Regions from separate parts of the Homo sapiens genome. Here region 2 is linked to region 1. The links come from fine-mapping of genetic effects on gene expression. A gene starts in region 1. The other region holds a variant in brackets. All regions are shown on one strand. Distances are between the middles of the regions.

Region 1 (5,379 bases):
GTCAATCCTAAGCCAAAAGAACAAAGCTGGAGGCACCACGCTACCTGACTTCAAACTATACTACAAGGCTGCAGTAACCAAAACAGCATGGTACTGGTACCAAAACAGAGATATAGACCAATGGAACAGAACAGAGCCCTCAGAAATAATTCCACGTATATACAACTATCTGATCTTTGACAAACCTGACAAAAACAAGCAATGGGGAAAGTCACCGCAATTTTTAAATTCACAGTAACAAGCCTCCCCTCCCCATGTTTTGGAATTTTGGGATGTTAAATCCACTTGTTCCTTTTGTTTTGCAATTTCTCATCATATCTTTACCTGTGCACCCCCTCCTTTTACATACACAATGTTTTGTATCATCTTATTGAGAATGATATACTCTATAATTGCACTGTTCAAAACGGTAACCACTAGCCACATGTGGCCGTTTAATTATATGATTTAAAATTAAAATGTAAAATTCAGTTTCTCCATCACATTGGCCACCTTGCTAGTGCTCAACAGCCACATGTGCTAGTGGCTGCCATATTGGACAGGGCAGACAGTAAACATGTCCATCACAGAATTCTCTATTGAACAGTACTGCTTTATAAATAAACACTTTACAAGAAACCACAGAACAATTGTCAAATACATCTCAATATGACTGCAGGAAATCTGTGGTCTATTCTTTCGGCTTGACCCATTTTCCAAAATTGCCTTGAACCATGGGAATAAAATGAATTTTAAAATGTCATAGTACTCTAAAACATGCACCTCTACTCAGCCCCTGCCCTCTCCTTCCTCACCTCCTCCCAACATCTATCTTACTCCTCCTTTAAGGCTGTAGTCACATCACTTACTAGAACCATGGGACATAGGGGAAATGTTCCATGTATGCTCATGTTCAGAAGGGACAGGAGTGAGAAGGCTTGAACAAGAAATTTCATGAGGGAGATATTTAAAACTGTGCTTGGAAGTCTCTACAGATGATCTAAAAGATGAAGCAGGAGAAGCAATATTTGCATCTCCAAACCTAGAGGAACAGTGCAAAAACAGAAGGACCTATCTCCAGTTGCTGGGAGTGAGACCAGTTGTTAGCTCTCAGCTGTTGAGCCGTCAGACCTGTCCAGAAATTAGCTTATGCTGAAGAGAGATGCCCTATGTAAGTCAAGTGTCTTTTCCAGAGGAAGTTTGCATCCGATGGGGATTATAAAGTTCTGCTCACTCTCCTTCATTCTGAAAGTCCAACCAAACTTTAGAACTCCCTGTAGAGTCTATATTTGTTGTGACTACATCTCAGTCTCACTTCTCCCTGCCTAATCCTGGGTTCTTCCCTTCTCCCTCTAGCACATTTCCTGAGAAGATTCCCTAATAAACTTCCTTCATCCATTTTATCTTCATCTCAACAGTCTGTATTCCTAGGAACCCAAACCTTTGCACATGTACATGTACATATCACTTATGTTAGGAAACGCAGTGATGTAATTTGCAATATTAGTAGGTCAAAAGGAAAAAGACATGGAATTATATCAGTCAACGTCAAAATAAAATTTTCTAAATTTATACCACAGATAAAAGACTTTAATGAAATAGGACTAAGCAAAGTATAGCCACACTGATTTTAAAATAAACTAATTAATTTCCAATAACCAACATCAATATTAATGATAAGATATTAGGTGCCCTACAGGTAAATAAATAATAAAAGCACATTAACTCACTTTTGAAAAGGTAGCAAGCAATTGTAATTATACAAGAGAAAGCAACATAAGATATTTTTGGAAACAAGGAGGGAAAATTATCACTATTTGCAACTGAGTCTATGATAAACCTGGAAACTCCAAGACAATCAAAAGGAAATGTTTTAAATGCTAGGATGTGGAGAAATAAGAACACTTTTACACTGTTGGTGGGACCGTAAACTAGTTCAACCATTGTGGAAGTCAGTGTGGCGATTCCTCAGGCATCTTGAACTAGAAATACCATTTGACCCAGCCAACACTCCAGAGTATTACTATAGACATTTCCTAGACAATTTCTCCCCACAGGGAGGTTCTCTGAAATTACAGAGCTGGACAGGGAAGAAAGGCCCAGAATCCTAGAAGCCATGAATGAGTTATGTAAAAATGTTTTGATGGTTAATGATCCTTACAATCAGACTCAGACAAAAATGTCCCCTCTCAGGTTCCCCTTTCTGTGCCCTTCTTCCCCTGGGCAGTGCCTATCAGAGGCTCCTCTTCTCTCCCAGTGGCATCTGCTTTAGAACAATCCCTGCTGCTGGTGTCAATGAGGTTTAAGCCCTTCTCAGGGGGCCATTTGCATCTAGACAAACTTCTAACTGTTGGGACATATCCCAGCTGGGAAGGACTGAAATCCACCAACTTCCTTGGCATTCATGCCTTTCTTTCCAGTCCAGATGAAATCATTAAAACACTCTTTTTTCACTTTTGAGAAGAAGAGACAGTTGGCCCACATGACAGCAAATAACTACTGATTAACTTTCCATTTAAACTGTTTATTTTGCATAATGGCATGAAAGAGAATTTCAAACACAGGCACGTGGTGGCGTTCATTAGCAGTCAGGAAGCTCAGGAAGATTCAAGAGAGGAAGAAGACCGACTGGAGTCTCGGTTTTACTTTCTTTTTCTCTTGGAGCTGAGCTATAAGACAACAGGACTGAACAGGGAGCCAACTGTTTCTTTGAACAGTAAATCAGGTAAGCCCAGATTTACGAAAAGTTCTGCAGTGTTGATTTCTAGGTCCCAAGCCATGCACAAACATTTTCATTTTTCTTAGAACAAATTTGTCCTATTTTAAGAGAAGCAATTTAGAGTGACTGCCTTTTCCTTAAGTGGAGCCAGTTTACAGGAAACCGATGTAATTTACTTTACACATTACTGGCAAAGAAAGAATTTCCATAGTATAAAGTCAATAAAAAGTGCTAACTGGGAAGAATTTGGGCATTAATCGGTGGCTTTCAGTTTTCTGTGCTTGTACGCTTGGTCTATGCCTGCCAGATTTAAGCAAGAGAAACTAGCTGATGAAAACGTACCGATATTTCTCACTCCATAGTAGTTCCTACATTGCAAGGGCTTCATAACCAGGGGCTGTTGGGGAATGAGAAAAATTCAAGCCATTAATGGATCAAGTGAAGTGTATTTCCAGCTTAAAGGACTGCACGGTTTCCCAGAGTCATAATCTTCATTCACTGAGTCTCTCAGCAAAGACTCAACATGAGGGAGGAGGTTTGGAGAGAGTAGAGGAGGGAAGGAGGCAAGGTGGGAAAAGAAAGAGAGGGAAAGGGAGGACTGAGCCTAAGGTGTAAGGGAAGGCACACCTACAGAGAAAGCTGACAGAAGCGAAGAGTGTGCAGGCAAAACAAAAACAGAAGGGAGCCGGGCTGATCTGTGAGAGGACGGGAGGAAGAAAGCGAGAGAGAGCTGGGCATGAGGCTTACAAATGAAACCCACTTCTCAGCCCCTCAGCAAGTGATTCCAGTTCTCTGTAAAGTAGGAAGTCATTCCTTTCCCACCCACCTTGTCCCTTATGAGTAGACAAATGAAACATGGTTGTTTAGAAATATAAGGATCTTGGCCTAGTGTGATGGCTCACGCTTTTAATTCCAGAACTTTGGGAGGCCGAGGCTGGTGGATCATTTGAGGTCAGGAGTTTGAGACCAGCCTGGCCAACATGGTGAAACCCTGTCTCTACTAAAACTACAAAAATTAGATGGGCATGGTGGTGCACACCCATAATCCCAGCTACTCGGGAGGCTGAGGCAGGAGAATCACTTGAACCCAGGATGTGGAGGTTGCAGTGAGCCGAGATCGCACCACTGCACTCCAGCCTGGGTGACAGAGTGAAACTGTGTCTCAAAAAAAAAAAAAAAAAAAAGAAAGAAAGAAAAAGAAAAGAAAAGAAATATAAGAATTTTTCATGATTTAGAACTGAAAAATAAGTTTCTTGTCTCTCTGTTTCTCAGGAACACCAATGGACCAAAATGAACACAGTCACTGGGGTAAGAAGGTGACTTCACGTGTGTGTGTGTGTGTGTGTGTGTGTGTGTGTGTGTGTGTGTGTGTGTGTTTGGCTCTTCTGATGATGTTGGGGCAAAATAAACAAGGGTGAAGGATCTTATTCTAACTCCCACAGCTACCACCACCAGCAGCTGAAAATTGTGGGGTTTTGTTTTCTTTGTTTGTTTGTTTGTTTGTTTGTTTTGAGACAGTGTCTCTCTCTGTCACCCAGGCCGGAGTGCAGTGGCGCAATCTCGGCTCACTGCAACCTCCACCTCCCAGGTTCAAGTGATTCTCCTGCCTCAGCCTCCCAAGTAGCTGGGACTAAAGGCACACACCACCACGCCCAGCTAATTTTTTTTTGTATTTTTAGTAGAGACGGGGTTTCACCATATTGGTCAGGCTGGTCTCAAACTCCTGACCTTGTGATCCACCCGCCTCAGCCTCCCAAAGTGCTGGAATTACAGGCATGAACCACCAAGTCTGGCTCGAAAATTGTTAAAATACTCACCAGGATCCAAAATATGCATCCAGGCTTTTCCCTTATGCACAAATCTTTCAGATCTCTTTGAAATACTCCTTCTCCTACCATTCAGTCTTCTCTTCCTTCTCTCACATTTCCATAGGTTCTTTGTGTGTGTGTGTGTGTGTCTCTCTCTCTGTCTTTCTGTCTGTCTCTATCATTCCCTTCTCTTCCCTTGTCCTTTCTCTCTCTCTCCTCTTCTTGCACCTGTTTCTGCTATCTGTATGGTATGGGCGTCTCTCTCTCTGTATCTTGACCTCCCCTTTCCCACTCCCTCCTCCTCACTCTCTGCCCCTCGACAGCCCTGTCTTCAGTCTCTTACATCAAGAAGAGCCCAGATCTTCCTCCTTACCAAGTTGCCTTCACACTCAACCCTCACCTGTGAGAAATAGGAGGTCTCTGGCTTCATTGTGTATGGAACTTGTTTATTGATCAAGCTGAACTCTGAGATCCAAATGAGAAACAACTTTTTTTTTCCTCCCAGCCACTGACTCTTATTATGCAATCTTGATTTCCTTTTGTTTTGGTTGCGGGGTGGAGGGAATGGAGTCTGGCTCTGTGGCCCAGGCTGGAGTGCATTGGTGCAATCTCAGCTCACTGCAACCTCTGCCTCTCAGGTTCAAGTGATTCTCCTGCCTCAGCCTCCTGAGTAGCTGGGATTACAGGCATGTGTCATCATGCCTGGCTAATTTTTATATTTTTAGTAGAGACAGGGTTTCACCATGTTGGCCAGGCTGATCTCAAATTCCTGACCTCAAGTGATCTGCCCACCTCAGCCTCCCAAAGTGCTGGGATTACAGGCGTGAGCCACCACGCCCGGCCACAATCTTGATTTATTGATGCCATCTCAGG
Region 2 (5,379 bases), 130 kb before region 1:
TAGCAAGGGTTCTTAACTGGCATGAGGTGACTGAAATGACAGGAATAGAATTCAGAATACGGATAGGAATGAAGATTTTGGAGATTTAGGAGAGTGTTTAAACAAAATCTAAGGAAGCTAAGAATCATGATAAAACGATACAGGAGCTGACAGAAAAAATAACCACTATAGAAGAGAATGTAACCGACCTGATAGAGCTGAAAAACCCACTACAAGAATTTCAGAATGTAATTGCAAGTTTAAACAGCAGAATAGACCTAATTGAGGAAAGAATCTCAGAGTCTGAAGACTGACTTTCTGAAAGGAGGCAGTCAGACAAAAATAAAGACAAAAGAATGAAAAGGAACAAATAAAATCTCCAAGACATGTGGAATTATGTAAAGAGGCTAAATCTATGACTTGTTGGCATTCCTGAAAGATGAGGAAAGTATAAGCAACTTGGAAAACATATTTCAGGATATCATTTATGACAATGCTCCCAACCTAGCTAGAGAGGCCAATATTCAAATTAAGGAAATGCAGAGAACCCTGAAAAATACTTCACAAGAAGATCATCTCTCAGACACATAATCATCAGATTCTCTGAGGTTGAAATGAAAGAACAAATGTTAAAGGCAGCTAGAGAGAAAGGGCAGGTCACCTAAAAAGGAAGCCCTTCAGACTACCTACAGAGTTCTCAGCAAAACCCTACAAACTAGAAGAGTCTGGGGGCCTATGTTCAACATTGTTAAAGAATAGAAATTCCAACCAAGATTTTCATATCCAGTCAAACTAAGCTTCATAAACAAAGGAGAAATAAGATCTTTTTCAGAGAAGCAAATGCTGAGGGCATTCTTTACCACCAGAGCTGCCTTACAAGAGCTCCTGAATGAAGCACTAAATGTGGAAAGGAAAGATTACCAGCCTCTACAAGAAAACACACTTAAATACACAGACTAGTGACACTATAAAGCAACTACACAAACAAGTTAGCATAACAACCAGCTAATGACACAATAACAGGATCAAATCCACATGTGTCCACATTAACCTTGAATGTAAATGGGCTAAATGCCCCACCTAAAAGGCACAGAATGGAAAGCTTGATAAAGATGCAAGACCCAATGGTATGCTGTCATCAAGAGAGTCATCTCACATGCAATGACACACATAGGCTTAAAATAAAGAAGTGGAGAAAAATCTACTAAAAGCAAATAGAAAACAGAAAAAAGGAGGGGTTGCAACCCTAATTTCAGAAAAAAAGAACATTAAACTAACAAAGATTAAAAAAAGACAAAGAAGGGAATTACATAATGGTAAAGACTTCAATTCAAAAAGAAAATCTAGCTATCCTAAATATATATGCACTCAACACAGGAGCACAGAGATTCATAAAGCAAGTTCATAGAGACCTTCAAAGAGACTTCAACTCCCACACAATAATAGTGGGAAACTTCAGTACCCCACAAACAATATTAGACAGATCACTGAGGGAGAAAATTAGCAAACATATTTAGGAACTGTACCCAACATTGGACCAAATGAGCCTGATAAACATCTACAGAACTCTCCACAAAAACACAATTGAATATACATTCTTCTCATTACCTCATGGCACATACTCTAAAATCAATTGGACATAAAACAATCCTCAACAAATGTAAAATAACTGAAATTATACCAACCACTCTCTTAAATTGTAGAGCAATAAAAATAGAATTCAAGACTAAGAAAATTGCTCAGAAGCATGCAACTACATGGAAATTAAACAACCTGCTCCTGAATGGCTTTTAGATAAACAATGAAATTAAGGCAGAAATCAAGAAGTTCTTTGAAACTAATGAAAACAAAGATATAGCATGGTGGAATCTCTGGGACACAGCTAAGGTAATGTTAAAAGGGAAATTTATAGCACTAAATGCGCATATCAAAAGATAGAAAGATCTCAAATTAACAACCTAACACCACAACTAAAAGAACTAGAGAAGCAAGAGCAAACCAACCACAGTGCTAGTAGAATACAAGAAATAATCAGTGCTGAACTGAAGGAGAATGAGACATGAAAAACCATTCAAAATGTTAATGAACCCAAGAGCTGATGTTTTGATACAATTAATAAGATAGATAGACCACTAGCTACACTAATGAAGAAAAGAGAGAAGATTCAAATAAACACAATTAGAAACAAAAAAAGGGGATATTACTACTAAATCCTCAGAAATGCAAACAACCATCAGAAACTACTATGAACACCTCTAGGCACATAAACTAGAAAATCTAGAAGAATTGAATAAATTCCTGCACACATACACCCTCCCAAGACAGAACCGGGAAGAAACAGGATCCCTGAACAGACCAGTAATGAGCTCCAAAATGAAATCAGTAACAAATAGCCTGCCAACCAAGAAAAGCCCAGGACAAAATGGATTCACAACCAAATTCTGCCACATATATAAAGAGCTGGTACCATTCCCACTGAAACTATTCCAAAAAAATTAAGGAAGAGGGATTCCTCCCCAGTTCTTTCTATGAGACCAGAATCATCCTGATACCAAAAACTGGCAGAGACACTACAAAAAAAGGAAACTTCAGGCCAGTATCTCTGAGGGACACTGATGCAAAAATCCTTAACAAAATACTGGTAAGCTAAATCCAACAGCACATCAAAAAGCTAATCCACCATGGTCAAGTAGGCTTTATCCCTGGGAAGCAAGGTTGGTTCTACATACACAAATCAATAAATGTAATTAATCGCATAAACAGAACTAAAGACAAAAACCACATGATTATCTCAATAGACACAGAAAATGCTTTTGATAAAATGCAACATTCCTTCATGTCAAAAACTGTGAATAAACTGGGTATTGAAGGAACATTCATCAAAATAATAAGAACCATCTATGACAAACCCACAGCCAACA[G/T]TATACTAAAAGGGCCAAAGCTGAAATCATTCCCCTTAAAAACCCACACAAGACAAAGATGCCATCTTTCACCAGTCTTATTCAATATGGTCCTGGAAGTCCTAGCCAGAGATCAGGCAAGAGAAAGAAATAAGATTGGATAAAGAAAATGTGTTACATATACATCATGGAATACTATGCAGCCATAAAAAAGAATGAGATCATGTCCTTTGCAACAACGTGAATGGAATTGGAGGCCATTATCCTTAGCAAACTAATGCAGGAACAGTAAAGCAAACACTGCATGTTCTCACTTATAAGTGGAAGCTATATGATGAGAACACACGGACAGAGGGGAACAGTAGACATTGGGGCCTACCTTAGGGTGGAGGATGGGAGGAGGGAGAGGAGCACAAAAGATAACCAATGGGTACTAGGCTTAATACCTGGGTGATGAAATAATCTGTACAACAAACCCTCGTAACACGAATTTACCTATATAAAAAACCTGCACATGTATGCCTTAACCTAAAATAAGAGTGTTTTTAAAACCTACTTGCTAAAAATAGGATCCCACTTGTTCTTCCCCATCTTCACTCTCCATCCTCCATCAAGCCCCTCAAATCAATAAATATTCCACTTTAAAGTATCATAAGGCTATTCCAGTCATGGCATGGTACTGCTGAATCATATGGTGACTTGCATTCAAAATGTCTGATCTGGAATCCTTATGAGGATAGAGTTACTTTAATATCATAGGTCACTGTGATATAATAGTCATTTATTTAGCCAAAGTGATAACCAAAATATTTCAAAAAGCAAAAACCTTTACTCTTTGATAGGGAGGAGACTCAGTTTCCTAAACAATCATAAGACCTAATAAAGGCACTGAGTATCAGAAGTAGTATGGCAGCTAGAGTTTTATGATCTTAAAACATCCAGCAGAAAGATTATAAACCTTCCTGACCAAGACAAATGTGTCTAAATTAAATTTTGAAGACATTTCTATTTTAACAACAATTTAAAAACTATATTTATCAAAGACTGCTAAAATCACATAAACTTGAAAAAAACTGGACTTATTTATTTCATTTATGAGTACTCCTTTGTTTATAAGCCAATTTGATATCACAGTAAATACATAAAAACATACTCACATGTGCACATAAAAATACAGAGAGAAGCAAAGATACCCAGCCTTGATTTTAAAACTCTAGCCATGAAACTGGCAGAACTCACTCATCCTAAAAGACATCTGGATTAAGCTTATGTCCCTGCAAATTGAATAAGTCAATGCCCACTTGTCCCTGACAACTCAAGCCCTCACCTAACCCCAGAGGAAACAGGGTAGCAATCCACATCTCAAAGGGGTCAGGGGAGAGAGAGAAAGTCCACGCTCCTTTAAGAAGGAATTTGTGTGTGTGTGTGGTAGAGAAAGATCAAAAAAGGATGCCAAAACAATGCAAAATTATAGGAATTCACCATAGGATTTCACAAGGAGATCAACTTCATTTAAGATAGGTAACTTTTACTGCAGTCTGTTTCTTCAACTTGACTACTGAGCCCAGGGTGGAGCCCATCAAGGAACAGGGCCAAAAAATTACTTGTAATTTGTAAACCCTAACAATTTACACAGTTGAAAAGCAGAACACCCAGACTTTTAAAATCGAGGACTTCTACACTGAATCTCAGGTCCTCAAAAAGAGAGAAATGCCATAGGACCAGGCCATGCAATGTCTCTATATGCTTCCTGTTATAAAGATAAGCCTCTAAGTGCTCAGACTACGCCATTCCTATTCAGATGTGCAAAGAAACAGGCATGCCCTTGCAGCAACATTTACCACAAACAACTTTTGTCAGCAACCTCTGCTGCACAAAAGCTTCTGCACAGCGAAAGAAACTACCATCAGAGTGAACAGGCAACCTACAAAATGGGAGAAAATTTTCACAACCTACTCATCTGACAAAGGGCTAATATCCAGAATCTACAATGAACTCAAACAAATTTACAAGAAAAAAACAAACAACCCCATCAAAAAGTGGGCAAAGGACAGGAAAAGACACTTCTCAAAAGAAGACATTTATGCAGCCAAAAAACACATGAAAAAATGCTCCCCATCACTGGCCATCAGAGAAATGCAAATCAAAACCACAATGAGATACCATCTCACACCAGTTAGAATGACGATCATTAAAAAGTCAGGAAACAACAGGTGCTGGAGAGGATGTGGAGAAATAGGAACACTTTTACACTGTTGGTGGGACTGTAAACTAGTTCAACCATTGTGGAAGTCAGTGTGGCGATTCCTCAGGGATCTAGAACTAGAAATACCATTTGACCCAGCCATCCCATTACTGGGTATATACCCAAAGGACTATAAATCATGCTGCTATAAAGACACATGCACACGTATGTTTATTGCGGCACTATTCACAATAGCAAAGACTTGGAACCAACCCAAATGTCCAACAATGATAGACTGGATTAAGAAAATGTGGC

The links. PIP is the estimated chance that this variant, and not a neighbour inherited with it, causes the effect. A credible set is the group of variants that fine-mapping cannot tell apart.
Region 2: its variant is the best candidate, but not a certain one, in a credible set for the expression of GIMAP2 in nasal epithelium (TOPMed, PIP 0.67).

Annotation. Positions count from the first base shown.
Region 1 is chr7:150,683,082-150,688,460 of GRCh38, forward strand. GIMAP2 (GTPase, IMAP family member 2) reads left to right here and starts at 2,625. Exons shown (of 3, transcript NM_015660.3): 1 at 2,625-2,704; 2 at 3,971-4,006. The coding sequence starts at 3,979. LOC124901774 (a long non-coding RNA gene) reads right to left here and starts at 4,632. Exons shown (of 4, transcript XR_007060589.1): 1 at 4,516-4,632; 2 at 3,041-3,095. RefSeq lists an enhancer at 2,500-2,699.
Region 2 is chr7:150,552,274-150,557,652 of GRCh38, forward strand. All of the region lies in intron 1 of LOC107986860 (endogenous retrovirus group K member 19 Env polyprotein-like), which reads right to left. Among named protein-coding and RNA genes, the nearest start is that of GIMAP4, 12 kb to the right of the region's middle. The variant G/T (reference allele first, on the strand shown) is at 2,901.